Regions from separate parts of the Homo sapiens genome. Here regions 1 and 2 are each linked to region 3. The links come from fine-mapping of genetic effects on gene expression. A gene starts in region 3. Each other region holds a variant in brackets. All regions are shown on one strand. Distances are from middle to middle. Region 1 holds the start of PNMA1 (PNMA family member 1). Region 2 has its middle 12 kb from the start of DNAL1. Region 3 holds the start of MIDEAS (mitotic deacetylase associated SANT domain protein).

Region 1 (10,246 bases), 43 kb before region 3:
TTGCATTGTAAAGTTGAGTAATAGCTAATAAATGCACACTTCCTTCCATTAATATAAATCTGGAACAATTTATGGTAAACAAAAATCTATCCGCGTTATCAGTAATCTAACAGTGCATACTTTTACTGAACACTTCCTGTGAGCCAGGCCTCGTAGTAAACATCTGAACATGCAATTTCACATTCAGTGTGGAATAAGAAGTGTCATAGGTTCGCGTGTTTTTCACAACTGATTATGATGTCCATGATGACAGCGTGCACTAAGCGCTGTGTCCAACCAACCCTTTACCTGGCATTTTAGCCAGCAAGACCCGCTTGCATTGCAGTCGTTCACGGTGCTCGCTGGCACAATTTTAGAATGTTACATGAATACTCAGGCCTGACTAACCTTCCCCTCCAAAAAACAACAAAACAGAACAAGGCTAAGCCTTTACTACTCAGAGACACATCTGTAAGACCCCACAGGGACAAGAAAAGTAGCTGTGATCTAGGTCTGCACTAAAGCTGCCTTTCCTGGCACTCAGAAGTGCCCTTCCAGGCCTAACTGCAGAAGGGTGGCCTCAGCCTCCTCCTCCTCCTCCTTGGCTTCCTCCTCACGGATCTGCACCAGCAACTGAAAGAGGTTTGGGGCTGGCCCTTCCCCAGCCCCGGTAAGCCACAGCTGCCTTCGGATGGCCCCGCTGTGGTTGGCCCCGGCAATGACCTGCTCTAGGCGGGCCTGGTTCACATTATCTTTATCAATGGCCCCCTTCTCTACCACCTTCTGTAGCAGAGGCTCCAGACGAATGACATAAGCAGACAATTTTTCTCCCGGGTTCTGATAAGTGTTCAGAAATTTGATCTGGGCATCCCTAGAGCTCTCAACGCTCCCAAACACCTGCTCAAGCGCCTTCAGGCATTCGGCAGTGGTTATCGCGGGGTTGTTGGACTTAAGGATGCGAATAACATCAGCGGCGGGGCCTCTAAGACTCTCCATCAACCGCCGCCTCTTTTCTACATCGGACACCTGCCACTCCTCTAGGACCTCATTAGTGTGCTCCAGCCAGGGATCAAAGGTTTCCTCTCCAGGCCCTGGGATGTCCCTCCCCGAGAAAAGTGTCAGCCTCTTGTACCATATGGACTCAACAAGAGGCTGAATAACATTATCCAAAATATAGTTTAGCATCTCTGCTGGCATCTCTGGGCCCGGGGTCGGAGTAGGGTTCTGAAACCCAAGGACACGGGCAACATCTTGCACGGTCCACCCCTCTCTAGCTAGGAAGAGGTGCAATCTTTCTAAAAATTCAGCATCAGAAGTTGGGGGCTTAAATAACACTTTCCAGACCCCTCCTTTGCCCGGCATCTCCCTGGGGATCGCGGCGTAATCTACAGCGCCAGTGAGCTCTAATAAGGCTGCTTTCGCATTTTCTTCCCTCCAGAACATTCTCCCAAGCATTCGGTAGGAGACCTGGGGCATCGCAGCCTGGAGGGTCTCTTCGATTTCAGCCTCATCACAGTTCACTGGGATGCCCCAGACTAACAGAGCTCTCTGGGAGTTCACATCCATCCCCCGGCACCAGTCTTCCAACAGTGTCATCGCCATTTTCTCAACTATCAAGACGCCAAATTCTACCAACAGACTGTGGCTCACCGTGCTCCTGGCCTTAGAACAATACCAGACACTCCCACCAAGTAGGCCCGAGGGAGGCGACCTTCATGCAGTCACGATTAACAAAGACAGAGTCCTGATCTCGCCCTTCTCTGCCCCCACAGTCAGTCCGTAGGTGCACTCGGAGCCGAGCTCGGGGACGCTGAGGCAGTCACGCGGCCGTCGCCATCTTGCGTCTGGGTCTGGGTCCGGTCGGGTCCGCCGCCTGCAGCAGGGGCGTCGCGTCGTCGTGCAGCGGGCGAGGAGCGACGGCGGGCGGCGAAGGCAGGCGCGCTGGGCCGAGAGCCGCCGGGGTGTGGTCGCGGGGCGTGGCCGCCGGGCGCTCGCTGCGGCTCCTGGAGAGGATCGGGCGTTCGCGGTCGCAGCCTGGTCTTCCCGCGGGCGAGGAGCGGCCGTTTGGGAGACTAGCCAGAGGGAGAAACTGTGCCGAAGTCGCGGCGGCTGCGGGCCAGCGGAAAGCGGCTTCTTGGCGGGCGCGGGGACTCCTCTGGGCGGGCGGCGAGGACGGCCGAGGACCAGAAACGAAGGCAGCAGAGGAGCAGGAAAGTCGGAGAAGCGAGGCTGGAGACAGCAGAGGCGAGGGTGGGAAGGGGCGGCCGCGGCGGCCCGCAGCGGTTCAGGCGCTGCGCGGCTGCTCTGGCGTCCAGTCCTACCCGCAACCCGCCGCGACGTTACTGCTGCAGTGGAGGATGGGGCCAGCCGGCGAGCGGCGTCCGCCCCGCCCCGCCCCGTCCCGCCCCCGCGGCGGAGCTGCTCGGGCGTCTCCATGGCAACGGTGTCCCAGCCGGCGCGAGGCACGCCTGCTCCGGCGGCTCGCGGGGGTCGAGCGGTTGCCGTGGAGCCAGCGAGGGGCTCGGGCATTTGTTTCTCTGATGGCGCATTTCCTTTTTCATAATTTAGCATTTTAACAGTAAACAACTACTACTAAGCACCGTGTTTTAAAAATAATAACCCAATCCTGGAGTGGATTTAAGATGATATTGTTGGAAATGCATCCCTCATGGTGGACTTGTCTACTCGGGTTGCTCAGCCAGTCCACCCTGCACGTGAAAATACTCTCCTCAGAACCCTGGCTTCCCGTTGCCCCTGACCACACTGTGCACCCTGCATATTTCATCCCAATGAAGCCAAAATGTCGGAGTGCGCCATTTCTGTGTATTTGTGTGAGACACTGAGTTTAGACTTTTTCTTGTCTAAAATTTTGTAAAAATCTGTCTGTGTCTACTGAGTCATCTTTTAGCCAGGCAAACATTAGTGTATTATTTTCCTTTTCCTGGCTGGCATCATTGACAATAGGCTGCTAAAAGAGAATCCTTATGGTTCAAAAATGTCGAGTAATCTCCCTGCAAGCAAGACAAGGCGCACTTACATCAACCCCAGATGGTGAAAATCCCAAGAGAACAAAGCATTCAACTCTGAATTTTTAAAACCTTATTTAATAAAAGGTTTAAAGATACAGAAGAACATTCAAAAGTAAATAAGTTACATAGGTACATTACAATCACATCAGCAAGATTCTTTAGTGTATTAATTTTTTTCTTATAAAAAGCACACAAAAAATAAAATCTTCAGTCTCTATCACAACTGTACAGCAAAAGAGGTAATATTTATATATGTACACTATTTTAATATGTAACAGTCTTTTTAAAAAAGGATGCCACAGGCAGCAAACACACAAAAGGCAGTGTCTGATCATTTTTGTTTCAAAATAAAAGGAATATACTTATTTATATGCTATTAAAATATCTGTACAATAATTACAGACTGTCAAGGCTGTTCCTGTGCTCTGTCCCCTCCAACAAAGCCTTCAACTTAGAGACAAATGAGGAAAAAGTGAAACAGCTGCAAATTGTTAGAAGCAAATATTAACATAGCAAAATGTGGGGAGGACACAATTGTTTTATAAAAATATCCCTACTTCCTGTAAACCTATGGAGTTAGGCTTGCCAGTCTGATAATAAATACCGTCCCAGAAAAGCGAGCCCCAGTGAAAACAACTAAACAGGCTGAGGCTTGAGTATGTGTTGTATTCCTCCTTCATCTTAACATCTGGCACATGAGAAGAAAGAGGTTAGGTCACTGAGGCAGTTAAATATAGGTGATCCCTTTAGACATAAGCAGCAGAAGACCTTGGTGCCAGGGGTGGAGGCGCGGCAGAAGGGGTGGTATGTACCTTAGCTGTGAGGGGGGCTGCTGAAGGCATGGAGGACAGTAATGACGGCTGTGCCTCCTTGGATGGTGGAGACCTCAGAAATGGTCTGCAACACAGGCACTAGGTCAGTTTCCCGCCCTTAGCTGAATGCAGATGGATGCTGGGAGATGGATATGGTGAGATGGTGTGGGGAGGATGTTAGAAAGCTGGAGGTGTTTATCACTTCTCAAGGAGCTCTGAATATAGGGGGAAAAAAACAACAAAAAGACAAGCCCAGGGAGAAAGCACCATTAAGGATATACCTATGCCAGCTTCTATAGCTGCACCTGCTTTATTGGCAGGTCACTTGCCACAATTGCATCTGCCCTCTAAACTTTTTAATTTTCACACTGTATCCTAGACATGAATGCATAAAATACAGTGTCTGGCGGGATAATGCAGAGAGGTACCATCTTGATTTTCCCCAGTTACATTCACCTGGTCTGGTCTCTGTAAGCTTAGAAGAGTAGAATCACTTTATTTTTTAAAGACTTCCGGCCAGGCACGGTGGTTCACGCCTGTAATGCCAGCACTTTGGGAGGCCGAGGCGGGTGGACCACCTGAGGTCAGGAGTTCAAGACCAGCCTGGCCGACATGGCGAAACCCTGTCTCTACTAAAAAAAAAAATACAAAAAGATTAGCTGGGTGTGGTGGTGTGTGCCTATAATCCCAGCTACTCAGGAGGCTGAGGCAGGAGAATTCTTTTAACCCAAGAGGCGGAGGTTGCAGTGAGCCAAGATCACACCACTGCACTCCAGCCTGGGCGACAGAATGAGACTCTGTCTCAAAAAAAAAAAAAAAAAAAAAAAAAAATTTTTTTTCCAAGTACAAGATGTTACCACTGACAAAAGGGTCTCATATGAATGATGGAGGTTTCTGTTACCGTATGCCCATAAAGGGGCCTGAAACCAAATATGATTTGAATAGAAAAGACCTTGGGAAACATAAGTAGCACTTTGGGGCTAAGCTGCGAAGGCACTCGTATTGTACAAGTAATTTCGAAGAGAGCCTAAATTTGCTACCCCCCTGCTTCTACAGGGTATACCAGATTTTTGCTGTCTTGGGACACTGAGCTCATGGAAGCCTGTGGAGGAAACTAACCGGTAAGCTGGGGATCTAGGTAGTCATCCAAGAGTCTGGAGGGAGAAGAAATTTGTTACTTCCACAGCTGGGGTCCTGTAGAACCATACTAATGTACAAATGGATGCTGAAAAATACCTGCATAGTTTCAAAACAAAACTCCCTCTCCACTCCCAGTTACTGACATGATGCTTCTTGGCTATCTCATAAGGAGTAGCAGTATGAATACTTTCTGGCTCCTTCCTAATACGTTGACCTGTCATACGCGCATTCACTTAGAATTTCTTTTGCACAACTAAAGTTGAATAAGATCAGAAAAATAGCTGAGCCCCGCTATGGGACTGGAAGTGAAGGGGCCTCCAGAACCTCCTGGCCCTTTCACTTCACCCATGCCAAATATGGCTTCTTCAAGCCAGAATCCAGGCCCCATAAACCAAACTAGAATTCTGGCCTCTTGCCAACTCTTCCCTCAGGCAAAGCACAGCCAGAGAAGGGGCAGCAAGAACTGCCTTAATCTCCCTTGCTCTGTGTGGGTCTGGTGACACCCTCCACCTTCCCACGCTCTTTCAGTGTTGCTATCATTCCTATCAGCAAGAGCTTCCAGAGCAACCAGGTGAGGGACCTTAGGGCCTTGGGAATTTAGGGGGTGGGGATAGGGGATGTCAAGATGCCTCGTTTTGGGATAAATGCACTCGGGCCTCTGAAAAGCAGGAGGCCCCTGGTCCCTGAGAGGATGTTAAAAATTAAATACTAAGAATAAATAAATAGCTCCCAAATGACACGAGTCAAGGAATGAAGGCTCCTGTCCAATCGAGTTAGGAGACCTCTCCCTCCCAGGGAAGGATCCAGAAATCTCCAAAGTGCAGGCCTGGGGGCTGGGTTGTGGATATCGACACTGGGTAGGGTGCGGTGGGGTTAGGTGTAGCTGCTGAGGTCAGAGCAGAGGCAAGGAGGCTGGCCCCAGGAGGGGCAGGCTGAGCCTCTCCGGGACCTGCTCAAGGCGAAGCGCCCTTGGCAGCCTCCAGGACCCAAAGGTATTCAGCCAAAAAGGTGGGAAGCAGGAAGAGCCAGGCTTGTCAAAAGCTCTCTCGGGCCTAACCCTGCAGCTTCCAGCCTCCGTACAGCTCCCTTCCCTGCAGCAGGATGAGTGCTTTGGACAAGAACGCTAGCCCCTCCCCCAACGCTGAGAAAACTTTCTAGCCCTAGCAA[G/C]GCCGCCAGCAAGCAGCAAAGGGAGAGTACCTGCCGCGGCCTCCCTCCCAAGGAGGAGGTGGCCACTCAGGACACGGTCACGGGAGCAGCTCAGACAGGCCTAGAGACTGCAGGGACAGCACAGGTGTCAGGCTGCGCCCCTTCTCAGAGAAGCCCGCAGACTCCCTCCAAGAGTTTCTTTTTCTGGGGCTTGGGGCAGGGCCGTTGCAGCCTTCGAGGTCCTCTGGGGAGGAGAAATGCTGCTCCAAAGTGGGTGAGCTTGTGCTTGGCCGGCCACGGTGGCTTCCTGGAGGCCGAGGGGAGGAGGGGGAAGCAAATAAAGGGAAAAGACTGCGGGGCAGCAGAGCAGCAGAAATCGGAGTGTGAGAGGCGGTGGAGTCCCTCCCGAGGGGACCGGGACTCTCCCGGTCCAGGAAAGCACGAGGACAGCTTCCGACAGACCAAATGCAAAGAGAGCTGGATCCTGGAGCCCTTAACGCTGCTCCCAGGGCCTTCATAAATAAAAGAGCCGTTTATGTCATTGTCTCATTTGTTTCGCAGGGAAAAGTCCCTGCAATCCTCTCCTCACTCCCTCTTGAGATGCCAGGGTGTCTGCGGGCGCTGGCGGCGGTGCGGGAAGGGCCGAGGCCCAGGACTGGGCCAGCCTGGCTCCCGCGCTCAGCCCTTGTCGCCCGCACCGCTCTCCTCCCGCAGGGCCTGCTGGTGGGCGGCGGCGGCGGCAGCAGCGGCCTCTTTCTCCTTCAGCCTCAGCGCTGCAGCCTTCTTCTCCTGCTCTGCGTGGCTCTTCATATGCGCACTGCGGCTCTTCACCTTGTAAAACACCCTGCAGCCGGGTGGGGGTTGCTCAGAACCGGCCTAGCCCACCCGGGGGCCCCCAGCGCGGGTGCGCGAGGAGCCCCAGCCTTCACCTTCACCCCCACGCTGCACAGCCGCGGCCGGCCAGCTCGCGTCATTTTCCGAAAGCTGCCCCATGACGTCACAGCCCTAGAAACCCGCTGAGCCAACCAGAAACGAGGCGGACACCGCCTGTACCTCTTCCCCCTCCCCTCCACCCCACCCCCGCCCCCTCCGCGCACCAGCCCGCGGGGGTCCCAGCGGGGACAGCGCTGCCCACCTTACCTGCCACATTTTTTACAGGGGAAAGTGTTCTCCTGATTCTGGGTCTTACTGAATGTCTCTGTTTTTTTCTTCTTCTCTGAAAAAGGTAGTGCCCTTCGTGACTTCCCTGTCCCTTCCCTTGGCTTCTCCGAGGCCTGGCCACCGGCAGACCCAGGGGCGTTGGACTCGTGGCTCCGGAGGATGAGGATGTCACTGGCCTGAAGAAAATCAAACAAGGAGAGTTGAGTGATCTGAGCAAGCGCAGATCTGGAATTCTAAAATCGCAGGGAACCGGGGGCCTGAAAAGTCATATATATTCCTGCCAAACAGTCACCTAGCATGCACTTGGGTCCTTCCAGGGATATGACGACCATTGCCTCCTCCAACTCTGCATCTCTGGTCAGCTCTATCGTTTACAAAGTTGCTGCTAGAGTAATTCTGTGGGGCAGCCCGAGCTGCTAGAGGCCTTGATGCGCCTGACAGGGGATCTTGGTCTCTGGGTTAATGAAGCACCTACCTGTTGATGTTTTCTGTCATTTAGTCCGCTCATGCCCTGTTCTATAAATGAGATTCAGGCCCCTGTGATGGGCCAGATGCTAGGGACAAAGAGGTTGACACAGGCATCCCTGCCCTCAGAGCTGAGGATCTGGTGGAAGGGACAGATGCGCAGGTAGCTACTTCAGGACAGCGCACTGCAGGGACACCAAACAGGGCAAGGGCAGGGGTCAGAGTGCAGAGCAGAGGGAGCAGAGGTGACCTCGGCTGGGGAAGCCCCGGGTGGCCATCAGAAGTGGCACCCTCATGGGAAAGTTCACAAAAGTCAACAGAACTCTGTAGAGCGCTACACAGAGCACAGCTCTTGGTGCAGGTGGTCGAGGCTCAGAAGTGGGCACACAGCCGTGTGTTTACAGTTTATGGGAGCTCTGTAAGCATGAGTGTACTACACACATTCCTTTTTTTTTTTTTTTTTTTTGAGATGGAGTCTTGCTATGTCACCCAGGCTGGAGTGCAGTGGCATGATCTTGGCTCACTGCAACCTCCGCCTCCTCCACCTCCTGGGTTCAAGTGATTCTCCTGCCTCAGCCTCTGGAGTAGCTGGGATTACAGGCGTGCACCACCATGCCCAGCTAGTTTTTGTATTTTTAATAGAGATGAGGTTTCACCTTGTTGGCCAGGCTGGTCTCGACTCCTGACCTCAGGTGATCCACTCACCTTGGCCTCCCAAAGTGCTGGGATTACAGGTGTGAGCCACTGCGCCCGGCCTACTACATACATTTCTAAAAAAAAAGACTCTAAAAAAGCAGCAGCTCCCCAATAAACCCCTTCCCCTCCTTACCCCTTTCTGGGAGAACTCTCCCTGGCAAGGAGCAACTATGGCCAGTAGTCTTGTTTCTTGGCCTGTGATATGGTGGACAGAGCACTGCACTAGGAGTCCAAGGACCTGGGGCAAGTCACTTAGCATCTCTGAACTGCTTTCCCCCATCTGCAGAGTAGAGGTTAACTCTGCAGTGTGAGGAACTAATGAGATAATGGAAATGAAAGCACTTTGCAGAGATCATGCCTGAGGGCCTATGATTGTCATTCCCATGGTCTCAGCTCAGTCTCATTCTTGTCAGGGACTCTGGCTCTCTTAGGGGAGCCCTGTCTGCAAACCACCAATGCTCCCTCAGTGACCCACATACCTACTGGGTTTTCACAAAACCTTTTTCCCTCTGAATCTCAGATACAGAAGCAGTAGAGTATAAAAATTAATCGCAGACTCTGGATTCAGGCTGCCTACTAGCTGTGTTATCTTGGGCCACAATTTCCCCATCTATAAAATGGGAATAACAGTAATACCTAACCACATAGGGTAGTGAGGATTAAATGAGTTAACAGCACAAAGTACTTCACACATTTCCTGCTATTATGATTATAATGAGGATCACAGTCCTGCTCTACCCTCCCTCCCACGCCCCCAGGCCCAGCTCCACCCTGCTTGCCCTGGGCTCAGCCCATGGTGGTCACACTCACCGACTCATTGGCCTGTAGTGTCTGCGTGGCTTTGACTGCCGCTGCCCGCCTGCTGCGCTCTCGCCCCTCTTCCTGCTCCTCCTTCTCTTGGATCTCTGGCACCTCCTCCTCCCCCTCCTTCCTGGGCTCCTTCACCTCCCTCTTGGGCTCCAGCCTCTCTTCACTTGGGGACTCTCTTCTGGGAAGAGGCACCCTTGGGAACTTTTGGGAAGTCTATGGGGAACAAGAACAAGGGCAGTGAGCCTAGAGCTCTGTCTCACTGCTGTAGCACAGATTCTGACCCGGCCGGGGGGTTCACCAGCCCCAGCTAGTCCTGCTCGCCTGGCTGGCCCAGCATAGTCTTCTGTACTAGGACTCTGGACTCTGTCCCCATGGCATAGTAGCCATGGGGACAGAAGAGTCTCAAGCCCTGGGAGCACCTGAGAGAGAACGAGGGGCAAGGAGGGTACATACCAGTCACTCCCCATTGCCACCCATCCTCCTGGACAGATGACCAGGAGGCATCCTCGGCAATGATGTGGTGAGCCAGGCAGAAGCCTTGAGTTCCAATTCCAAACTATCTTTGTAATGCTTTCTGTAGCTCTACTACCTTCCTGCCTGCAAAATGGGCAGCAAACCACTCCCTGTCTTACCGTAGCATGTCACCAAGCGTGGATTTGCAATCCCAAAAATGATGCTAGGTGGATACATGGACATAGGATTAAGTAACCTTCCCTTTTAATTCTCTTTCAATCCTGATTATGCCAAGGACTCAGTCTCTGGTTGCTGCTAATGTGTCTTTTATACTTCTCTAGACTTGATAATCTCTTTAACAAAGCAAGGTCAGCCCTCAGTCTCAGCCTTGGCAGGTAACACAGCATCTAGCTAGAATTCAGTAATACTGGTTTTCACATATATTTTTACCAGTACCTTCTATTTATAGCACACAACCTTGGTTTTCTATTTATCACTGTGATATAAAACTTCCCTTCTGAGTAAAAAATGAGTTGACTTAAAGGAAAATATTAA
Region 2 (10,246 bases), 130 kb before region 3:
GAACTTCTGACTAACTGGCTTCACGTTGGGGTTCCAATGACCTCCTTGTTGGGTTTGATTTGCTGGAGTGACTCACAGAACTTGGGAAACACTTACTTCCACTTACTGGTTTACTATAAAGGATATTACAAGTGACACCGATAAGGAGATGTATAGGGAGAAAAGACACAGAGCTTCCATGTCCTCCCGGGCATGTCACTCTCCAGGAACCTCCATGTGTTCAGCTATCCAGAAGATCTCTGAACCCATTTCTGGGTTTTTATGGAAGCCTCATCATCTAGGCACGATTGATTAAATCATTGCCCATTGGTGATCAGCTTAACCCTAACGCTTTCCCTCCTCCCCAGGTTTGGTAGGTTTACAGTGGGGCTGAAAGTCCCAACAATTTTTTTTTTTTTTGAGACGGAATCTTACTCTCTGTTGCCTAGGCTGGAGGGCAGTGTTGTTCACTGCAACTTCCGTCTCCTGGATTCAAGTGATTCTCCTGCCTCAGCCTCCTGAGTAGCTGGGATTACAGGTGGGTGCCACCAAGCCTGGCTAATTTTTATATTTTTAGTAGAGACGGAGTCTTGCTATGTTAGCCAGGCTAGTCTCGAACTCCTGACCTCAAGTGATCTGCCCGCCTTGGCCTCCCAAAGTGCTGGGATTACAGGCGTGAGCCACTGTGTCTGGCTTTCAATTCTTTAATCCTGCCTTGGTGTTTCTGGTGACCAGCCCCCATACTGAAGCTACCTAGGGGCTGCCAGCCATTAATCAACTCATTAGCACACAAAAGACAACACGTTGGAGATTCTAAATCTTTTAGGAGTTGTATGTCACAAAACAAGATTACGACCAAATATATATTTCACAATATCACATAGTCATTTTTTTTAATTTAAAGAAAATTGATAGAGATGGGATCTTGCTAGGTTGGCCAGGTTGGTCTTGAACTCAGCCTCAAGCAATCCTCCCATCTCAGCCTCCCAAAATACTAGGATTACAGGCATGAGCCACTGTGCCCAGCCCATAGTCTTAGTTTTAAAAATTGCCACAGCCTCTGGGTGTGGTGGCTCACACCTGTAATCCCAGCACTTTGGGAGGCCGAGGCGGGCGGATCATCTGAGGTCAAGAGTTTGAGACCAGCCTGACCAACATGGAGAAACTCTGTCTCTACTAAAAATACAAAATTAGCCAGGAGTGGTGGCGCATGCCTGTAATCCCACCTACTTGGGAGGCTGAGGTAGGAGAATCACTTGAACCCGGGAGGTGGAGGTTTCAGTGAGCTGAGATCGGGCCATTGCACTGCAGCCTGGGCAACAAGAGTGAAACTCCATCTCAAAAAAAAAAAAAAATTTGCCACAGCAGTGGCTCATGCCGGTAATCCTAGCATTTTGGGAAGCCGAGGCTGGTGGATGACCGGAGGTCAGGAGTTTGAGACCAGCCTGGTCAACATGGTGAAACCCCCGTCTCTACTAAAAATACAAAAAAGTTACCCGGGCATAGTGGTGGGCGCCTGTAATCCCACCTACTTGGGAGGCTGAGGCAGGAGAATTCCCTGTACCTGGGAGGTGGAGGTTGCAGTGAGCCGAGATAACGCCACTGCACTTCAGCCTGAGCAACAAGAGCGAGAGTATGTTCCCAAAAAAAAAAAAAGAAAGAAAAAAAAATTGCCACAGCCACACCAACCTTCTGCAACCACCACCCTAGTGAGTCTGTGGCCTTCAAATGGAGGCAAAAATATCAGCAAAAAGATTACGACCCACTGAAGTCTCAGATAATCATTAGCATTATTTAGCAGAGGTGTGTTTTTTCATTAAGGTATGTACTTTTTTTAAACATAATGCTATGGCAACTTAATAGACTACAGTATATTATACACCTTTTATATGCACTGGGAAACCAAACATTCATGTGACTCACTTTATTGTGATATGTGCTTTATTGCAGTGGTCTGGAAGCAAATCTGCAATATCTCCCAGGTATCCCTGTATTAACAATTATTATTTCAGATAAGGAAATGGAGATCCAAGAGAAGAAACATGCCTGGTTAGTGGGAGAGCTAAGTCAGTCCAAGGCCAAAGCCCATGCCTTCACTGACCACTTGGCTCTAGTGCCTTCCAGCTTGAGGAGAGACTGGAAGAGTGCAGAGCTGCATGAAGGGGACTATAAGAAAGTTAATGGTATGTTAGGGTCACATGATGTAGCTTCACAACCCAAGGTGGAAAGTTTAGATTTTTTTTTTTTTTGAGATGGAGTCTCACTCTGTTGCCCAGGCTGGAGTGCAGTGGTGCAATCTCAGCTCACTGCAAGCTCTGCCTCCCGGGTTCACGCCATTCTCCTGCCTCAGCCTCCCAAGTAGCTGGGACTACAGGCACCCGCCACCAAGCCCGGCTAATTTTTTTGTATTTTTTTAGTAGAGACGGGGTTTCACCGTGTTAGCCAGGATGGTTTGGATCTCCTGACTTTGAGATCCGCCCTCCTCGGCCTCCCAAAGTGCTGGGATTACAGACGTGAACCACCACACCCGGCCCCAGATTACTTATTTCTTATCATTTTAAATTGGCTCCACCGCATTCCAGCTTGGGCGACAGAGCAAGACACCATCTCAAAAAAAATAAAAAATAAAAAACAAAAAAATTTAAAAAAAAAAGAAATATGATTGGACAAAAAGGGTACGTGGTGTCCTAATTAGACAAAGGGAGTCAGGCTGGTGGGAGCAGGGGAAAGCAAAAAGAAGACGCAGATAAGCTACCAGTCTGCCTTTCTTCATGGTCCAGGACACAGCCCTCCTGCACAAATAACTGATAATCTTCCTCCGCCCAACTATCACCAGACCCCTCCAAGTTAGCTCACTGCAACCTTGGTGTTATCGCTACTGCACAAATCCCTCTTCAACAGACAGCATAAACATTATTCTATAAAGTCCCCAGCAAGCCTTTGTTTCTTTGCAGTCAACTTCTCTTCTGCTGGCCTGCCTGTTGCAACGTTCTCGCAACGTATTTTCCTACTTTCTCTAATAAATCTGCCTTTCTTTACCTACAACTGTCTTGGTAAATTCTTTTACCCCATGCCACCATAGTGGTTCGCTCCCCCAATAAAATGCTACTAAGCTGAGTGGGGAAACCCAGCAAGGCCTGTCTGTCTAGATTCTTCTTGGCTTCTCTGAGCTTCATTCCTTCCTTCTGGGTGTGGGGCATGCCGGTCCCTCTTTAGAATGGGAATCACGACTTACAGTCAAATAAGGTAGATCAGATCATTTGTTTACAGCCAATTTTTACACAGAAAGGCAGAGGGAAAATTACAGTAATATTTTGAGGTTTTATCACTGGCTTTAGGGAAAAGGAGTTCTGGTTTCTATGATCTGCCTGGAAGAAAAGGGATTCTAGTTTTTATGGCTAGCCTCAGGGAAGAATGGGACTCAGAGCAGGGTGGCAGGAGAAGGGCAAAGAAAAACTTTCCCTTCTGAGGCCTTCATTTTGGGGTATTGTTCTCTGAGCCCCAACAATATTTATGGCGAAAGGACCAAAGACAGGACTTTAACAAGTCCTTGCTTTTCAGAGAAAAGTACCTTGCAGGTACTTACTTTTCAAAGAAAACAGGGTTGTTGGATGGCTCTAAACCAGAAACTCTTGGTCCAATGGCCATGTGTTTTCAGTGGCAAATACATTCTATCCAGAAATATGACACATGACAATTATTTATAGATAAATGGGATAAGATTTGAAAATGGGATTGTTTCTCCCCAAATTTAGGATTTATATACATACCCCTCTTCCTTGACAAGCAGTTTAATAAAATATGTTCACCTGGGTTAATTCACCTCATTTTACACATGCGTTTTAATTAAGATAGAATAGTAGAAAACAATTTTTTTTTTAATTTTTAGAGACCAGGTCTTGCTCTGTCACCCAGGCTGGGGTGCAGTGGTGCAATCCATAGCTCACTGCAACCTCTAACTCCTGGGCTCAAGTGGTCCTCCCACTTCAGCCTCCTGAGTAGCTAGGACAACAGGCATGAGCCACCATGGCCAGCTATTTGAAAAAATGTAGTAGGTGAAGGTAGTGGCGGCCAGGGCTGGGGTCCTGGGAGTCTAGTGGCCGCAAAGGGCATCCCAGAATGTGATGCCACTGGGTGCACAGACAGCCTCCCACATTACCAAGGGCATGCTCCCGGGGCCCTAACCTAAGACCCCAGAAGAACGGGTCGCTGCCACCAAGAAGTATAAATATGTGTGTGGAAGACTACGAGCCTTATTCGAATGACGGCATGGGGTATGGGGACTACCTGAAGCTCCCTGACCACTTATAGCAGAAGAGGGATCTGTGGTATAACTGAGACCACCTGGCCTGAGGTTGAACTGGGGATACACTGGCACCTAGACATGCATATCAGGAACCATGTAGCTATGTCCCCCACACCTGTTTCTTGGAATATCATGTGTATACAGCTCTTCGGCTCTGTGGCTTTCATGATGTTCATGTTCTGGGTGGGGGTGATTTACCCTGTCTACCAGCCCGTGGGACCAAAACAGTGTCCTTGCAATAATCTGTACCTGGAACAAGGTGGCGATCTCTCCAAAGAACCTGAGCCAGTGGTTGACTATGGATACCAGGAGGCTTTGTGGGCTTTTGCGCCCTCTAACTAAGACTCCCTCATTCCTATAAATTTAACCTTAATGAAATCCCTAATAAAACTCAGTGCTGTGGTGGTTTAAAAAAAAAAAAAGAAAAGGAAATTTGTAGAGA[T/TG]GGGGGTCTCGTTATGTTGCCCAGGGTGGTCTTGAACTCCTGGCCTCAAAGTGATCCTTCTGCCTCTGTCTCCCAAAATGCTGGGATTACAGGCATGAGCCACCATGCCTAGCCGGAAAACAAATTTTAAATTACATATATCAATACTTTCTTCACTGTGAAAGATTCAAGTAATACAGATAAAATAAAAGGTCCTCTTAACTCATTACCCAATCTCAGTCTTCTCCCAAGGGTAGTTACTATTACCAGTTTGAAGTGTTTCCTTCCAGAACCATTCCAGAACCATTTTGTATATATATACAAAATACAATATTCATATGTATGAATGAAAAACTATGGTTTTATTTTGTGGGTTCAAGGCCTTTTCTCTCTCTTAAAAAAACAGAAATGTAATATACTTGGCTGGGGGCAGTGGCTCATGCCTGTAATCCCAGCACTTTGGGAGGCCAAGGCAGGGGGATCACCTGAGGTCAGGAGTTCAAGACCAGCCTGGCCAACATGGTGAAACCCCATCTCTACTAAAAATACAAAAATTAGCCAGATGCAGTGGTTTGCGCCTATAATCCCAGCTACTAGGGAGGCTGAGGTAGGAGAATCACTTGAACCCGGGAAGTGGAGGTTGCAGTGAGCCAAGATCACGCCATTGCACTCCAGCCTGGGTGACAGAGTGAGACCCTGTCTCAAAAAAAAAAAAAAAAGAAGAAGAAGAAATGTAATATACTTGTAAGCTTTTCTTCTGCATACAAAAAATATACATTGTTAACACTTGTTCCAGTCCACAGGACAATAGAACTTATTTCCTTAGGGTATATATCTGTAATTCAGCTTTCTCTCTCTCTCTCTCTCTTTTTTTTTTTTTTTGAGATGGGGTCTCATTCTGTCCCCCAAGCTGGAGTGCAATGGCACAATATCGGCTCACTGCAGCCTCCGCCTCCCGGTTTCATGCGATTCTCTCGCCTCAGCCTCCCGAGTAGCTGGGATTACAGGTGCCTGCCACCACGCCTGGCTAATTTTTGAATTTTTAGTAGAGATTTGGTTTCACCATTCTGGCCAGGCTGGTCTCGAACTCCTGACCTCACGTGATCCATCCGCTTCGGCCTCCTAAAGTGCTGGGATTACAGGCGTGAGCCACTGCGGGCTGTCCTGTAGTTCCACTTTCTGAATGAAAAAGCAAAATTTATGCTCCCTCCTGAGCTCATCCCCTATGTCCCCGCTGGGCTCGTTTTAGGTCTTTGCTGGCATTCAAGTTGGGGAAGTGTCTCTCCACCAGTTTCTATTATCAATCCCTACTATTTTATAGTTCAATTCAGTATCTCATCGGAAACGTTTAAACTTTAACTTTGATAGTCTTTCTTAATCCAGGACAAAGATTACTTAAAACGGAGGAAAGGAATTTGTTAGGACCCTAGCACACTTGGCCTCCTTCAATCAGGCTTAGGGAATATTGACCCCTGGTGGCCAGTGAGGAAATTCAGAGGCGGCCAGAGGCCGGCACTTACCGTTAAAAATGCTTAACTTTATTCGCCACACGTCCGGGGTAAACTCGCGAGGGGATCCTACCTCTTCCAGATGGTTCCACACGGGACCTCTAGGAGCTCAAAGGACCCTGGGCCCTCCGAAGTCGTCTCTTCTTGCAGCCCGTTGCTAAGTGGCGCCGCAGGGACCAGCCCAGGTCCCATCACGTGGCCCTGCAGGGTTTTGCCCCACAGGGCCACGACCTGCCAGGCCGGGCCCCCCTCCTCCCTCCTCTTCAGCGCGGAACCTCGGCCGCCAGTGCCAGGCCGCCTCGACCTTGGCGGAGGTCAAAGCCGCGACAGTCCCGGACCATGTGGCCGGCGGTCCGGGCAGCGCTCCGAGCCTCTGGGGTCCCCCTCCAGGCCTGGAGGCCGATATCCACATCGTCCTTTTTCTCCCAAAAGGCCGCGACCCTGACCGTCACGCCCAAGACTGGGCTGGCCGACAAGTGCCTGGATATGAAAGCAGAAGGCTTGGGCTCGGGGGAGCCGGTGACCCTGCAGGTGTCGGGCGTCAGCCACCGAGGCCGCCTCTTCCACTCCCTTGCCCACTACGAGGTGGACAGCGGCGGGGGGCTGGACCTGGCCGGGGACCTGGCTCTAGGAGGCGACTTCACGGGCGTGGGGCCCATGGGGCTCCTGTGGAGCCTCATGCCGGCCGCTTCGAAGGATCCACGCCTCAGTCGAATGCGGAGGGCCGCCTTGAAAAACCCCCTCATAGTGGAGGTGACCATCCACCTAACGCCGCTGCAGCAGGCGGCGCCGCTGAGTCCGGCGCTGGCCTCGGCCCAGGTGCAGCGCTGGTTCTCCATCCCCGAGCTGCGCCGCGCGCCTGCGAGCCGGCCGCCTGCGGGGGGTCTTCCTGCTGCCATCAGGTGCGGGGGCCCTTTTCCGCAGAGTGCCTGACAGCAGAGTGAGGGAATCGACTGGCTTGCTTTGCTAGCTGGTTTGTCATCTGAAAACAAAGCGAGCTCCTTAATCCCTTTATTTTGTCTCCTAGACTTCAAGTGGAACATTCATTCCCCTAGATGGTGGCTAGGATCCAAATTTCATCTGCTTATGCACCTTTCTTCTGCCAGCTGCTCACCCGCCAGAGTCCTAGTGCTGCATACGCTATTCCTTAGGAGCATAGACCCTGCGTGTTTGCTATATTAAGCATAAGATTGCTGCAAAGTTTCTAGCATTAAATGCTTTTGTTTGCTTACAGCAGTCTCAACCTCCTGAGCCCAAGCGATCCTCCCACCTCAGCCTTCAGAGTAGAGTAGCTGGGACAGCAGCCATGTGCCACCCAGGTAAATTTTTTTTTTATTTTTTGTAGAGACAGGGTTTCCCTACGTTGCCCAGCCTGGTCTTGAACTCGTGGGCTCCAGCGATCCTCCCACCTTGGCCTCCCCAAGTGTTGGGATTACAGGTGTGAACCACCACACCCAGCCATCTTTCTTTTTTAAATTCTTATTTTTTTAGAGACTAGGTCTTGCTCTGTCACCCAGGCTGGAGTGCAATGGCATCATGATAGCTTATTGCAGCCTCGACCTTCTGGGCTCAAGTGATCCTTCCACCTCATCTTCTCAAAGTGCTGGGATTACAGGCGTACATGGCCTCATTTTAACCTTTTTGTTTTTTTAGAGATAGGGTCTTGCTATGCTGCCCAGACTGGTCTTGAACTCCTGGCCTTAAGCAGTCCTCCCACCTCAACTTCTCAAAGTACTGGGATTACAGACACACACAACTGAGCCTGGCTTTATTATTATTATTATTATTATTATTATTATTATTATTATTATTATTATTTGAGACAGGGTCTCACTCTGTCACCCTGGCTGGAGTGCAGTGGCACTGTCACGGCTCACTGCAACCTCCCTTCCAGGGCTGAAGCGATTCTCCCACCTCAGCCTCCCAAGTAGCTGGAACTACAGGATCTCACCACTCTGCCCAGCCACTTTTACTTTAATTGGAATAACAAAGGAATATATCTGAAAAATACCAGGAAACAATTGGCCGATAAATTCTTCTCTTGGAATAGTGAAGGAATAAAACATCCCCAACAGGACTGTTGAAAGAGAAATAATAGACCAACGTTGGGAGGATATTAGTTTGACATTTTACTATCTCTTCACACATGTAGTTCATTTTATAGTACACCTTCATTAGACCTTTAAAACAGTTTAATCCCTGTCAAATTATGGATTCTGGTGACTCTGACTATATCTTAAATTTATTGAGAAATCAAAGGGCCCTTTAAATTTGGATGTCTGGGTTTGTTTTTGTTTTTTGATTCTTTGTTTGTTTTTTGAGACGTAGTCTCACTCTGTTGCCCAGGCTAGAGTGCAGTGGTGAGATCTCAGCTCACTGCAACCTCCGTCACCCAAGTTGAAGCGGTTCTCCCACCTCAGCCTCCCGACTAGCTGGGATCACAGGCATGCACCACCACAACCAGCTAGTTTTTTGTATTTTTAGTAGAGATGGGTTTTTGGGGTTTCACCATGATGACCAGGCTGGTCTCGAACTCCCGACCTCAAATGATCTGCTCACCTCGGCCTCCCAAAGTGCTGGGATTACAGGCATGAGCCACTGTACCTGGCTTTAAAAATCTCATGCTAAAAACCAGACATCCAGCCGGATGCAGTGGCTCACGCCTGTAATCTCAGCACTTTGAGAGGCCGAGGCGGGCAGATCACCTGAGGTCAGCAGTTTGAGACCAGCCTGGCCAACGTGTAGTGAAACCCCGTCTCTACTAAAAAATACAAAAATTAGCTGGGCATGGTGGCACACACCTGTAGTCCCAGCTACTTGGGAAGCTGAGGCAGGAGAATCGCTTGAACCTGGCAGGTGGAGGTTGTAGTGAGCTGAGATCGCACCACTGTACCTTAGCCTGGGCAACAGATCAAGACTCCGTCTCTCAAACAAACAAACGAACAAACAAAAGCAGACATCCGGCCAGCACGGTGGCTTACCCCTGTAATCCCAGCACTTTCGGAGGCTGAGGTGGGTGGATCGCCTGAGGTCAGGAGTTCAAGACCAGCCTGGCCAACATGGCAGAAACCTTGTCTCTACAAAAATTAGCAGGGTGCAGTGGGGCACAAGAATTGCTTGAGCCCGGGAGGTGTGGAGGTTGCAGTGAGTCCAGACTATGCCACTGCATTCCAGCCTGGGCTATGGGAGTGAAACCCTGTCTAAAAAAAGAAAAAAAAAAGGAGATTTTTATTCTTACATAACTCAAAGCTTGCAGAACTATTTGCTTAGACTTATCAGGACTTGTACTTCAAACCAAAACACTTCCCATATATTTGGTGCGATTTTTCTTTTTCTTTTTTTCCATTTACCAGTGATTAACTCACAGGGAAAAAAATATAAAAATATTTTTACATTTATAGAATCAAAATAGCTCAAATAAATGTCTATTTCAACCACAATAATAAATCCATTTCCACAAAACAGATGTTTTCTTTTCAAAGCAAGTAGGTAGTTTTTTTAAAAAAAGATAAATTATACAATCTAATTTTCATTTAGAAAATGTTGGCTAGGTAAATGTTCTGTCATCTAACCCAAGATTCATTCCCTTTCCTGGGTTATAGATGATGGTCCTTTTGCTGGTCTCATTGATATATTTGGTGATGGAGGATTAAGTGAATCTTGAGCAAGTCTCCTGGCTTGTTGAGGTTTTGCTACTCTGCTTTGCCATTTTTTGGCTATGAAGATCTACCTCCAGCCATGAAAGACTTAAACTTAGATTACTTTGAAGAGGCAGTTAAATTTGTGCAAAGTCACCCAAAGGTGAGTGGTATGAGAGAAATGAATGAATTACTCCAGAAGAGAGTGAATAAAGGAAGTGTTACTAATGGGTTGGAAAATACCTGCAACAAATACCTGTTGAATTAATAAATAAATACTAGAGCTGTCTGATAACTCTAAAAAACTCATAAAAGACTTTCTGGCCAGGCACAGTGGCTCACGCCTGTAATCCCAGCACTTTGGGAGGCTGAGGTGGGCGGATCATCTGAAGTT
Region 3 (10,246 bases):
GCAACGGTAAGTTGGATAGGGTCCTCTGTCTGCCCAACTACTGGGAAAAGCAGGGAATCAAAATCTCTCACCATTTTCCTTCTTGTCTGGATTCCAATTCCCCAGAGAAGCTGAGCGGCTTTAGAGAGAAGCCCCTTCTGGCCAGCTACAAGCCTACTGTAGCTCACTCTCTCCATCCAAGCTTTAACTGGGATAAACCTTGCCCTGTGCTTTCCCCACTCTCCTTCCTTCCCAGGACTCCTGAAGGAAGAAGCACTGCCTGGAAAAAATGCTCTCACCACGAAAGCTCCCTGCGGCTGGGAGAAAGGCAGAGGGAACAGGGAGCACCTTCCCTGGCTGGCCACAGCACGAGGCTGTGTTCCAGGAAGAGCAACAGCAAGGGCGGCTGCCAGGGAAGCCTCAGCCCCAAGCCCCGGCTCTTCCCCACCAGCTCTTCCCCACCAGCCGAGAATGACAGCCAGCAACTGCAGCCCTCAGGGAGACCCCCAGCCCCACCCCAGCACAACTCCGGCTCTCCTCTGACAGTGGCAACTTTCTTCTTATATAATTCTTGGTGTTTCCTTCACCGTTGCACATAATTTTAATGGGTAAAAGAGCCAAAGCAGTCTTTAAGGAAAAACTCCCACCCTTGGCTCTACCCAAACCTCCTGCGAGGTCACACTGCGAGGCTTCAGGTGAAGCAAACAGGGGACTTTTTTTCCTTGGCTGAGAAAGCAGCCTTCCTCCTGCCCACCCACGTGAGCAGCTCAGCCTGGGGCCTGGGCGGGTAGGTTCCTGAGAGCACAATCTGATCTCTGGGAAGCTGGGCCCTCAACCCTCGGCTGCAGGGCCACAGTCCCTCTCAAAGGCACACAGACACTGGGTCTGGGCCACATGTCTAGGGTGGAGTGGATCAAGCTGTTGTTCCCAGGGCACAATAAACTTCATTTATACAAGCTTCAGTGGCCTGGTAGATTGCTTTCCTACTATAAACAGGACACCCTTCATTTTCTCTTCCTTGATAGGAGTCAAAGGCAAACACACTGGATCCAGTGGGAACTGGTGAAATGAGAGTTGCCATCTGTTGAATACCTAGTATGTGTCATTCACTCTGCATGCATAATCCTGTCTAATCTTCACAGCCTATGAAGTACTAGTATCATCCACATTTTACAGGTGAGGCAACTGAGGCCCAAGAAGTTAAGCAATGCCCAAAGCCACACAGCAAGAGGAGATGCTGGGGTATGAACTCAGGTCTGCCCAGGCCTCATTCCCACGCACCCATCAGACTTCCTTCAGTCACTGCCCAAGTGACTGTCCACACACCATCCAGGAACGGCGTTCTGAGTGTGGAAGCAGAAGTCGGTGTGGATGAATTTTGCTGGAGGCCTCCAGAATCTGAACTGATGCTCCAACTATTATTGCTCCCAAGTGTGTGACTGCGAGAGCCCATGTCAGTGTGTGTGTGTGTGTGTGTGTGTGTGTGCGCGCGCGCGTGCGCGCTGAGGTGGAGGGAGGGTGATCTGGATTCCAAATTGCAGTTTCCAACATTAAAGTTATGCTGTAATGCTTCTGATTCATAAAATGAGCTCATAGTCTCACAGTATCCTGAATGTTGCTTCGAATGCAAATGCAGGTCCCTTAGTAAGAATTGGGGATTTCAGCCTACTCCACCCTAGCCCCGGCCCAGCATGCAATTTTTCAGTCCCAGAGTCAAGAGTTCTCATGTGCAGAAAGAAGCAATTCCTCCAACAGAATGCGGCCACTGGCTCTGCTTCCTGCCACCTGCAGTGAGTCAGGGAAGAATGGAGCCCCAGGCTGCTTCTGTACTGATGCATGCACGCCTGCACACACACAGGAAGGGTGCCAATCTGGGCTGACCAAAGGAAGTGCCCAGGCTAGCAGATCCCTAGGGAGATGGCTCCACAACTCTTTCACCCTGAGGTCCCCTTAGGGTCAGGATGACCGACACATGCACTCCACAAGGCCAGCTACAGGGCAGTGCCAGGAAACTGGGTTCACCAGCCCCAGAATCACCCACGGTGGACTGACATTTTTGAAACCAGTGATGCAATCTGAGGAGGTTCCAGGAGCAGGGACTCACTGGGCCCAACACATGACAAGTACACATTTTTTTTGATGGAGATCTTTCACTAATTTGTTCAACTAACATGCACTAAGACCAGGTGAGGTAGTTCAAGACTGTAATCCCAGCACTTTGGGAGGCCAAAGTGGGTGGATTTCTTGAGCCCAAGAGTTCAAGACCAGCCTGGGCAACATGGCAAAACCCCATATCTACAAAAATAGAAAAATTAGCCAGGTGTGGTGATGTGTACCCGTAGTCCCAGCTACTTGGGAGGCTGAGGTGGGAAGATTGCTTGAGCCCAGGAGGCTGAGATTGCAGCGACCTGAGATCGCACTACTGCACTCCAGCCTGGGCGACAGAGAAAGACCCTATCTCTAACAACCAAAAAAAAAAAAAAACACTAAACACTTACTAGATGCCAAGCAGCATTGTGGGACCCATTCAAGCAGAGGCTACCAAATACTGAAATGTGCTTTAAGCATTTTACGTATACTAACTCACAGAATCCTCACAGCAACTCTATGAAGGAGATACTGTATAGGAACTCTAACTCAGAGTCTTTGTTTTTGACCACCACACTGCAGTATGTACACAAATAACTACATAAGGTGGAAATGAGTGTTCAGAAGATGGCTACAGCCTTCAGAAGTGGCATTTGAAACAGGATTAGAAGGATAAGCTGGAAACCCCCAGCCACTTTGTGGCTGTCCCCACCCCAGCATGAGCAAAGTTTTCTTCTGGGAGACCCAAATGCAAGAGAGGGGCTCTCAACCTGAAGATTCCTGGACTGGGCCCATTCCCCTTCCCCTCTTCTGTCAGAGGTCTTGGCACCCCTGGGCAGCCTTTCTCTGGGGACTCTAGACACAGGAGGCCCTCAGCTGAATCCACAACTGCATGTTGTCTTTTCTTGTGTTCCACTTATTGAAAGCAGCAGCACACAGGGTCAAACACTGGGGCTATTTTAAAATCCCACATGTAAAAATTAAATTCTCATCCCCATGGGCACTCCAGGGCGCTCTTTCCTGGGGCGGGGTGAGGAGCTGACAGAGTCACGGGAGTGGGGGTTCTGCTGGCACTTGGAGAGGCCACACTGGCAGTGGCTAGGCTGTTCCAGAGCAAGCTGGCAAGCTGTATGACCTGGGGGCATCCTCCAGGTTCTTCACCCCCTTGTCCCCCCGGGAGCTACACGGACCAGAGTAACCAGCCAGAGGCCAATCCAATTAGAGTGGAGACTGGACCAGGGCCATGCAACGAGATGGTTTATCACAGTAATTGAATGTTTACGCTCCTATTATTCACTGTCCAGAGCAGTTGGAAAAGGAAGACCTACGAATTCTCAACCCGGGAAGGCTTCTCCTTTTCCCTGGGTTCTGAAGCCACTTAACACCCAAGGAAAGGGTGCATTTCTCTGATCCAAAAGGGGCGTGTGCCACACCTTTGGTGGGAGGCTCTAGAGCAAGACAGGTGGTTTCTCCCCTCAGCTGAGGCCCCCTAGGGAGGACTGGCTTCTCGGTCCACCTTCACTAGGCCTTCAGTCTCAACCCTGAAGCTACAGGAACAAGAAGATCCCAGATCACCTGGCCAGGCTCCCCCTGCTGGAGCAAGCCAGACATCCCCTCCCTCCCCCAGCCGCAGCTGCCAACAGGGATCCCCTGCATACGCGGGCCACCGGGGCCTCCGTGGCCAGCCTCTCTTCCCCCATCCCACCGCCCCCCGCGCGAGGCTCCACAGGCTGGCACACAGGTCCCACGTGGGATGGTGGAAACAGGAAGCAGCCACCGTAGTTGTGACCAACAAAGTTTTAAATGGGGCATATAACTTCCCCTTTCATCTTCTCACCAGCTCTCGCTGGAGGCTGGGCTGGGACGGACACCCGGCCTCCACTTTCTGTGGCAGGTACCTCCTCCATGTCGGCCCGCCTTGGGGCTGAAGCCTGAAGGCCCCAGGGCACACGAAGTTCCCCTTCCTCCCCTAGACCTTTACCCAGAGGCCTTGGGGGCAACCTGACACACATGGTCCTGCATGTGCGACTTGGGAGGCGACGTGACCAGCTCCACCAAGCCGGCCATATGCAGGGCCCGGCCGAATCCCGGGTTTCGGCGCTGCCGCCAGGCACCAGGGAACACAGCTCCCCGCGAGGCACCGCGCGGGCTGGGAGGGCTGCGGCGGCGCGGGCGTGCGGGGGCGCGCGGGAGGATGACAGGTCTGAGGTGCGCCCGCCCGCGCGAAGCGCTCCAGCCTAGGCCTCTGCTGACTGCATTTGCCCCAGTTCCCCAACGCCCCTGCACCTCTGTCCCCCAAACTCCTGGCGTGGACGCCGCGTCCAGGCCCACTTTCCCGTGCACGCTGGCAGGGGAAGGGGCTCCCGCGCCAAGTTCCCTCAGCTGGCTAGCCCCTCGCCGCGCCTTCCGGGCCTGGGCTCCGTCACGTCAGCCGGTCCCCACGGACACCACGTTTCTCTCCAGCGGAGGAGGAGCAGCCGGATTCCCGAGCCGCCGCGGGCCGCCGGGTGGGGAGGGCTTTCCTGGCGGGGCCGCGCCCGGGTGGGCGGGGGCCGCGCGCAAGCTGCGTAGCTGCACAAACACCGCGGGGCTGCGCTGCACACGCAGCTGCGGGCCGAGGGCGCGGACCGCGGGGGAGGGGGCGGCGGGCTGCAGGCGGCCCCCGCACGGCCACACGCGCCCGCTCCACCGCCGCCCAGGCCGCAGAAGTTCGAGCGCAGCGGCCCCCGCGGCCCCCTCTCCGGGCCGCGCCTGCAGAGCTGCAACCCGCCGTGCGAGCAGCCACAGCTCGCGCGCCGCCTGGGGTCCCCTCGCCGGCCCCGCCGCGTGCAGGCCTCGGCCGCCGGCCAGGCAGCCCCACTTACCCAGCTCTTGCCCGGGCTCCGGGCTCCGGGCTCGGCTGTCCCCCTTCCGCCGCGGGTCGCCGCCTTCGGTCGCCTCCGGGACTCCAGCCGCCTGCACGCACTCCCGATTTTAAAAACAAACAGGCGCCGTCGCCTCCCCGCGGCGCTCGCGGGGCTTCCGCCAGCCCGCGCCTCCCGAGGCTGAGAAGTTTGCTGGCAGGGCCCGGGCGGGACGCGCGGGCTGTCACCCCCCGCTTGCGATGCAGGAGCCTCGGCGCGCCCCGCACCCGTGCCGTCCGCCTCGCGAGCGCTCTGCCTCCCTCCGTGTCACCCCCAGTCCTGCGATGCAGTGTCAGGATTGCACGGCTCTGACTCATCGGTTGAGCTCACAGCTTGAAAAAAAAAAAAAGAGAGAGGGCGAGAGGCAACAGCGGAGGAGGAGGACTCTGGCGTGCTACAAAGGATTGCACAACTCGAGGCTGGGAGCGCGGAGCGCCCAGCGGCCGGCCGGCGCGCGCGGCACCGCGGCGAGCAGGAACCAGCTCTACCACTTCATCAGCACAACTGTCTCGGGGCGGCCTCAGCCAGCAGGCCCGGCGCCGCCCACTTCCTGCGACCAAATAAGGCCGGGGAAGGCGTCCTTAAACCTCAGGCGGCGGCCGGGGCTGGGGATTTCCAGCAGACCTCACCTCCACTCACGAGTCGGTCGCCGTCCCCATCCCCCGCCCAGGCTGGCGCCCCCGATGGCTTTGCTGGCGGGCCACGCTGCTAGTTCCTTTCACACCAAGGTCAGGAGGAGACGGTGACGAAATGTTTGGAAACCCATTGAGCCTGCCAGGAAAGTGTGTGTGTGATGCTGGGGAAGGCACAAGTCGCTTTCTTCCACAAAGAAACTCTCTCTGGTTTTGGATACGGTAAATCATGCACAATCCTCTCCATGGCATTTTATTAACAGACTCTCCGAGTTTCACTTTCTGGCTCAAAAGCGTCCTGGTGCGTGTAAAGGTTATTGAGAAACTGGCCTCAGTCCCTAGAAAGGACCCACCATCTCCATCGCTTAGGTGAGGAAAATCTCCTGGATTTAAATCTAGCAACTCAGGCCAGAGTTGAGCGGCTTTTCACTCCATACTCACATTTTCCCCTGTCTTCCCTAAATATCCCCCTGATCAATTCTCAGGTCCAGGCCTTGATGCCTCCTTGCCTGACTGGTGGGAAGATGGAAAACATTTTTGCAGCTCAAGAGGTTGGTTCTGGCCCCCACATTCAATGGGGCTCTAGGGCCAGGGGAAAGTTCAGGGGAGTGTGTCCTATTCTTCCTTCCAAGTTTTTTGGTGGTGGTGCAGTGGTGGTGGTGGCGGCGGCGGTGGTGGCGGTGGCTGTTTTTCAAGGAGATGGGTCACAAGGAGATTTTCCTTTGAAAGAAAAACCACCGAAGAATACCATGTGTCCTGGCAGCCACTTTTCAAAACACTGTGGCCAGACCTGAGAACCAGGTGCATCCCTCACTTTCTCAGGGAGAAGAGGAGGGAGGGGCAGCAGAATATGATTCTCACACACTCACTGGGCCTACAGGGCCAGGGTGGGGTGTGGAGGACACAGGCAAAACTTGGATCTTCTGCCCAGAAATCCTGCCAAACCTGCACTTGCTTCTAAGGGGGCATGGCTTTCCTGTCCTCTTCCACCTCTTTGCTGGCTGGAGCACCTGCGTACATGTACACCTGGAAGTCACACCTCCCCAAGAGGAGAAGGGCTTATTTGCACCATGTTATGATAGATATGTCAAAATAAGGAACACTTAAAACAATCTTATCTACAAAATACAGGTAATTATGCCACAGGACTGGACCAGAGGACCTCTTGAGATCCCTTCCAGTTCAAGATCCATGATTCTGTGATTACAGTAAGTGAATAGAGGAGCTAGGGAAACCACCTTCTACAAAAAAAAGCCCGGGCTCCCCGATTTAGCATCTGTGATGACAGTATTGTTCCTGGCAGCTCTCAGAGCACTTCTCCATACAGTCTCCTGAAGAGCCCTGCATGTGAGTTTTATCTCTCTCAATCTGTGGATGTACTGAGGTTCAGAGAGGTTAAGTGAATTGCACCAGGTCACAGGGCAAGCCAAGCATCTGTGACCTCTCTGCTCCTCCCCCAGAGGAAGGCAGTGAGCAATTGAGGAACTGCAGTGCTCAGGCCTGCAGACCCCCAAGCAGAGGCCAGACTCTCAGGGCTCCTGGCAAAGGATCAGGGTAGAGCCTTTTTACTTTTTTCATTTGCCTGATTTCTTCCCTCCCACTGACAACACATCCAAGTGAGGGAAGCAAAAGCAAAGCCATTTGGTCTCCAGTGCCCACTGCTGCCAAGTTCCTCTGCAGACCTGTGGCCATCCTCACCTCCCCTGAGAGCCCAGCCCCTGCAGTTGGCCTTAGGCCAGCCCAGAGTGAGCCCCTAAGAGCTTGTGCAGACCAGCCCAGGGATGTTCCCAACCAACCAGAAAACCTGACTGGGAAGCACATTGCTAGAAGAGCCTGCCATCATGGAGCCAGGGCCCAGCCTTCAGGGAACAGGTGAAAGCCACTCCAAAGGAGTGGCCCAGGAAGCAGCATACATAGTGGAGGCAGGTGGCAGGGGAAACAGAGAAGTCAGTGGCCCTGAAGGAGCCTTGCTCACCTTGGAGCGGCACCGCCCTTCACTACAGCTAAACTTCCAAATTCAGGCCACCTAAGAAAGGAGAGAGAAGAAAAGGGGCACACATGTGTGCAGGGGAGGAGGGCTCAAGACTATACCAAATAGCCCCCCCTTGGCAGGAGAAGTCTACCTCAAAAAGGCGGGCAGATGAGGCTATGTAAAGAAAGCTGCAGCGCTTCCGGGAAAGCCCTGGAGGTCAGTTTTGCTGCAGATATGACGGTGCAGAATCACTGACGTGTGAAGTGAAAGTTTTGGTTTTAGAAGCTCCAGCCCCTGCTACAAGTCTCTGGGGCAACCAAGAAGGTTGACCTTTCAGGGAAATGGGGAGGTGTTCCAGAGACCTTATCCACAGAGTTGGATTTTCTCCACCCTCAACCCTCTTTACAAACTGCACGAAAAAGGAGTACAGAGCTCCAGTTACCAGGGAGTGTGACAAGAGAGAAACACTCCAGGAAATAAAGCACCCTAGACAGAATCCTAAACTCTGATTCCCAATAAAGGTAGAATATGGCAAATTTGAGAGGCTTCCTAGGGCCACATCAGCTCTCTGGACTCCACTCAGAGCGGTCTGTCACTGCCCTGTGTTTCATCAGCAGTATCTAGACCATTAAAATCTTCCAAGGATGAGGCCAGGCACAGTGGTTCACACCTGTAACCCCAGAACTTTAGAAGGCTGAGGCAGGAGGAGTGCTTGAGCGCAGGAGTTTAGAGACCAGCCTAGGCAACGTGGCAAAACCCAGTCTCTACAAAAAAATACAAAAATTAGCCAGGTGTGGTGGCACATGCCTGTGGTCCCAGCTACTCAAGAGGCTGAGGTAGGAGGATTGCTTGAGCCCATGAGGTCAAGGCTGCAGTGAGTTGTGTTCACGCCACTGCACTCCATCCTGGGTGACAGGGTGAGACGTTGTCTCAAGAAAAAAGAAAATCTTCCAAGGGTGAATTTTATGGTGTGTGAAGTATATCTCAATAAAGCTGTTACGAAGTTGGGGGAAAGCTTCCAAGGAAGCCAGGTTCTCACCTCCCAGCCACCTTCCTCCAATAAGTCTGCAGCCATCATCACTATTTAAAAGAGAAGTGTCTTTCTCCCCAGGCTCCATACCTGCATTGCTGTCCTTTTCCCACTGTTCCTCCCCCAATGAGGCCAGCACACGTGGTGTGTTTAAGTAAACAACCAACCTTTACCAGAGCCTGGGGAACTGGGAGTACAAATATTGTTGAGGGCATCCCAAGTCCACAATGCCAGCCAGGTCCCTATGTCCCTTGTGTTCTTGTGTCCCTATTGTCGTTTCCCTCTAGAGAACTAAAGTACAACCTCCAGGACCTCATTACCTACAATTACAACAGAAAAAAAAGAAGGGTGTAGAAAACACAGGGACTTAGGAAAACTGTCACTGACCTTCCCTGAACCTCACTTTTTAGGCCCATAACAGATGCACTGTTTAAGTGTTCATTGCATGAACAACGAAAGGATGCCCACCTTCCAGGGGCTTGAGAGGATCAAAAGGACAAAAAACTGCTTTATAACTCAATCATGCTATGTACATATAAGAGGCTACAATTAATTATTTTTACTGTTTTACCCTGTATCTCCTCCCCAACCTAGGTTATCCCTTCTTAAGAACCTAGTTCCAGCCCCAGCGTCATGGCTCACGCCTGTAATCCTAGCACTTTGGGAGGCCAAAGCGGGCGGATCATCTGAGTCCAGGAGTTCGAGACCAGCCTGGCTAACATGGTAAAACCCTGTCTCCACCAAAAATACAAAAGTTAGCCAGGTGTGATGGCGCACGTCTGTAGTCCCAGCTACTCGGGAGGCTGAGACATGAGAATTGCTTGAACCCAGGTGATGGAGGTTGCAGTGAGCCCAGATTGCCCCACTGTACTCTAGCCTGGGCAACAGAGGGAGACCCTGTCTCAAAAAAAAAAAAAAAAAAAAAAAACAAAACAAAACAAAAAAAAACCACCTAGTTCTTTTCCCTGAAAAGACCCCATGGGCCTCAGGTAACCCTCTCATGGGCACTGCCTAGAGAGACTTTTTCTGGCATTGACTCAATGTCTCATCAGGGGTGTCCTCCAACGCTTCTCTCCCAGCCTGTTCTTTGTGTCCTTTCCACCACACTTTTCCACAGGGCTGTCCTCCCAGCCTGAGTAGGAACACCCCTCCACCAGCTGTGTCTTCTCAGCCCTTTTTGCCAGGTCTTTTCTGAGCAAACCGCGAGCTCACAACCACCCCAGTCATGAAGTTAAGCCACTGTGTGCTGAGATGTCTCTGCACTGTCTTCTCTTTTATCCTTGGAAAAAACCCCAGGGGACCCTCCTCCTCCGCTCACATTGACTTCACCTGTTCTGGGGCAGGGCCATGCTTGCCACACCAGCCCACAGCTGTCTGTGTCCCTGGCCCTCCCACCTGCCCCCTCCCCAGCCTCCCTGCCCTGCAGGCCTGGGCCAGGTTCTGAGTGCCTTTGTCAGGCCTGAGAAGGAGCCTCTGTACATGTCCCCAGTTGCTGCTGTCACTCTGGGAGAGACGTCTGGCCGGGTGTAGGGAGAAGGACAAAACAGGTGTGGCTGCCAGGGAGGGCAGGCCAGCAGAGCCACAGGACTGAAACGCCCTTTCTTCACAGACCGAGAGCTGCCAACTTCTCAAAGGCCTCCCT

The links. PIP is the estimated chance that this variant, and not a neighbour inherited with it, causes the effect.
Region 1: its variant is fine-mapped to the expression of MIDEAS in whole blood (TOPMed, PIP above 0.99).
Region 2: its variant is fine-mapped to the expression of MIDEAS in whole blood (TOPMed, PIP 0.98).

What each region holds. Positions count from the first base shown.
Region 1 is chr14:73,712,059-73,722,304 of GRCh38, forward strand. It overlaps PNMA1 (PNMA family member 1), which reads right to left and starts at 2,326. Exons shown (of 1, transcript NM_006029.5): 1 at 1-2,326. The coding sequence starts at 1,581. The coding sequence ends at 520. It overlaps MIDEAS (mitotic deacetylase associated SANT domain protein), which reads right to left. Exons shown (of 13, transcript NM_001367710.1): 11 at 9,239-9,451; 12 at 7,247-7,443; 13 at 3,064-6,950. The coding sequence ends at 6,785. RefSeq lists enhancers at 1,722-1,781, 2,722-2,791, 6,757-7,367 and silencers at 1,872-2,041, 2,222-2,501. The variant G/C (reference allele first, on the strand shown) is at 6,128.
Region 2 is chr14:73,627,435-73,637,680 of GRCh38, forward strand. It overlaps a transcript of HEATR4 not described here and the pseudogene NDUFB8P1. Among named protein-coding and RNA genes, the nearest start is that of DNAL1, 12 kb to the right of the region's middle. RefSeq lists an enhancer at 5,894-5,943. The variant T/TG (reference allele first, on the strand shown) is at 4,728.
Region 3 is chr14:73,754,832-73,765,077 of GRCh38, forward strand. MIDEAS (mitotic deacetylase associated SANT domain protein) reads right to left here and starts at 5,472. Exons shown (of 13, transcript NM_001367710.1): 1 at 4,932-5,472. MIR4505 (microRNA 4505) reads left to right here and starts at 3,916; the gene lies at 3,916-3,988. RefSeq lists enhancers at 1,669-1,748, 3,440-3,489, 5,550-5,879, 6,795-7,317, 7,318-7,839 and 3 more and silencers at 1,535-1,829, 4,140-4,249, 4,610-4,759, 4,890-5,129.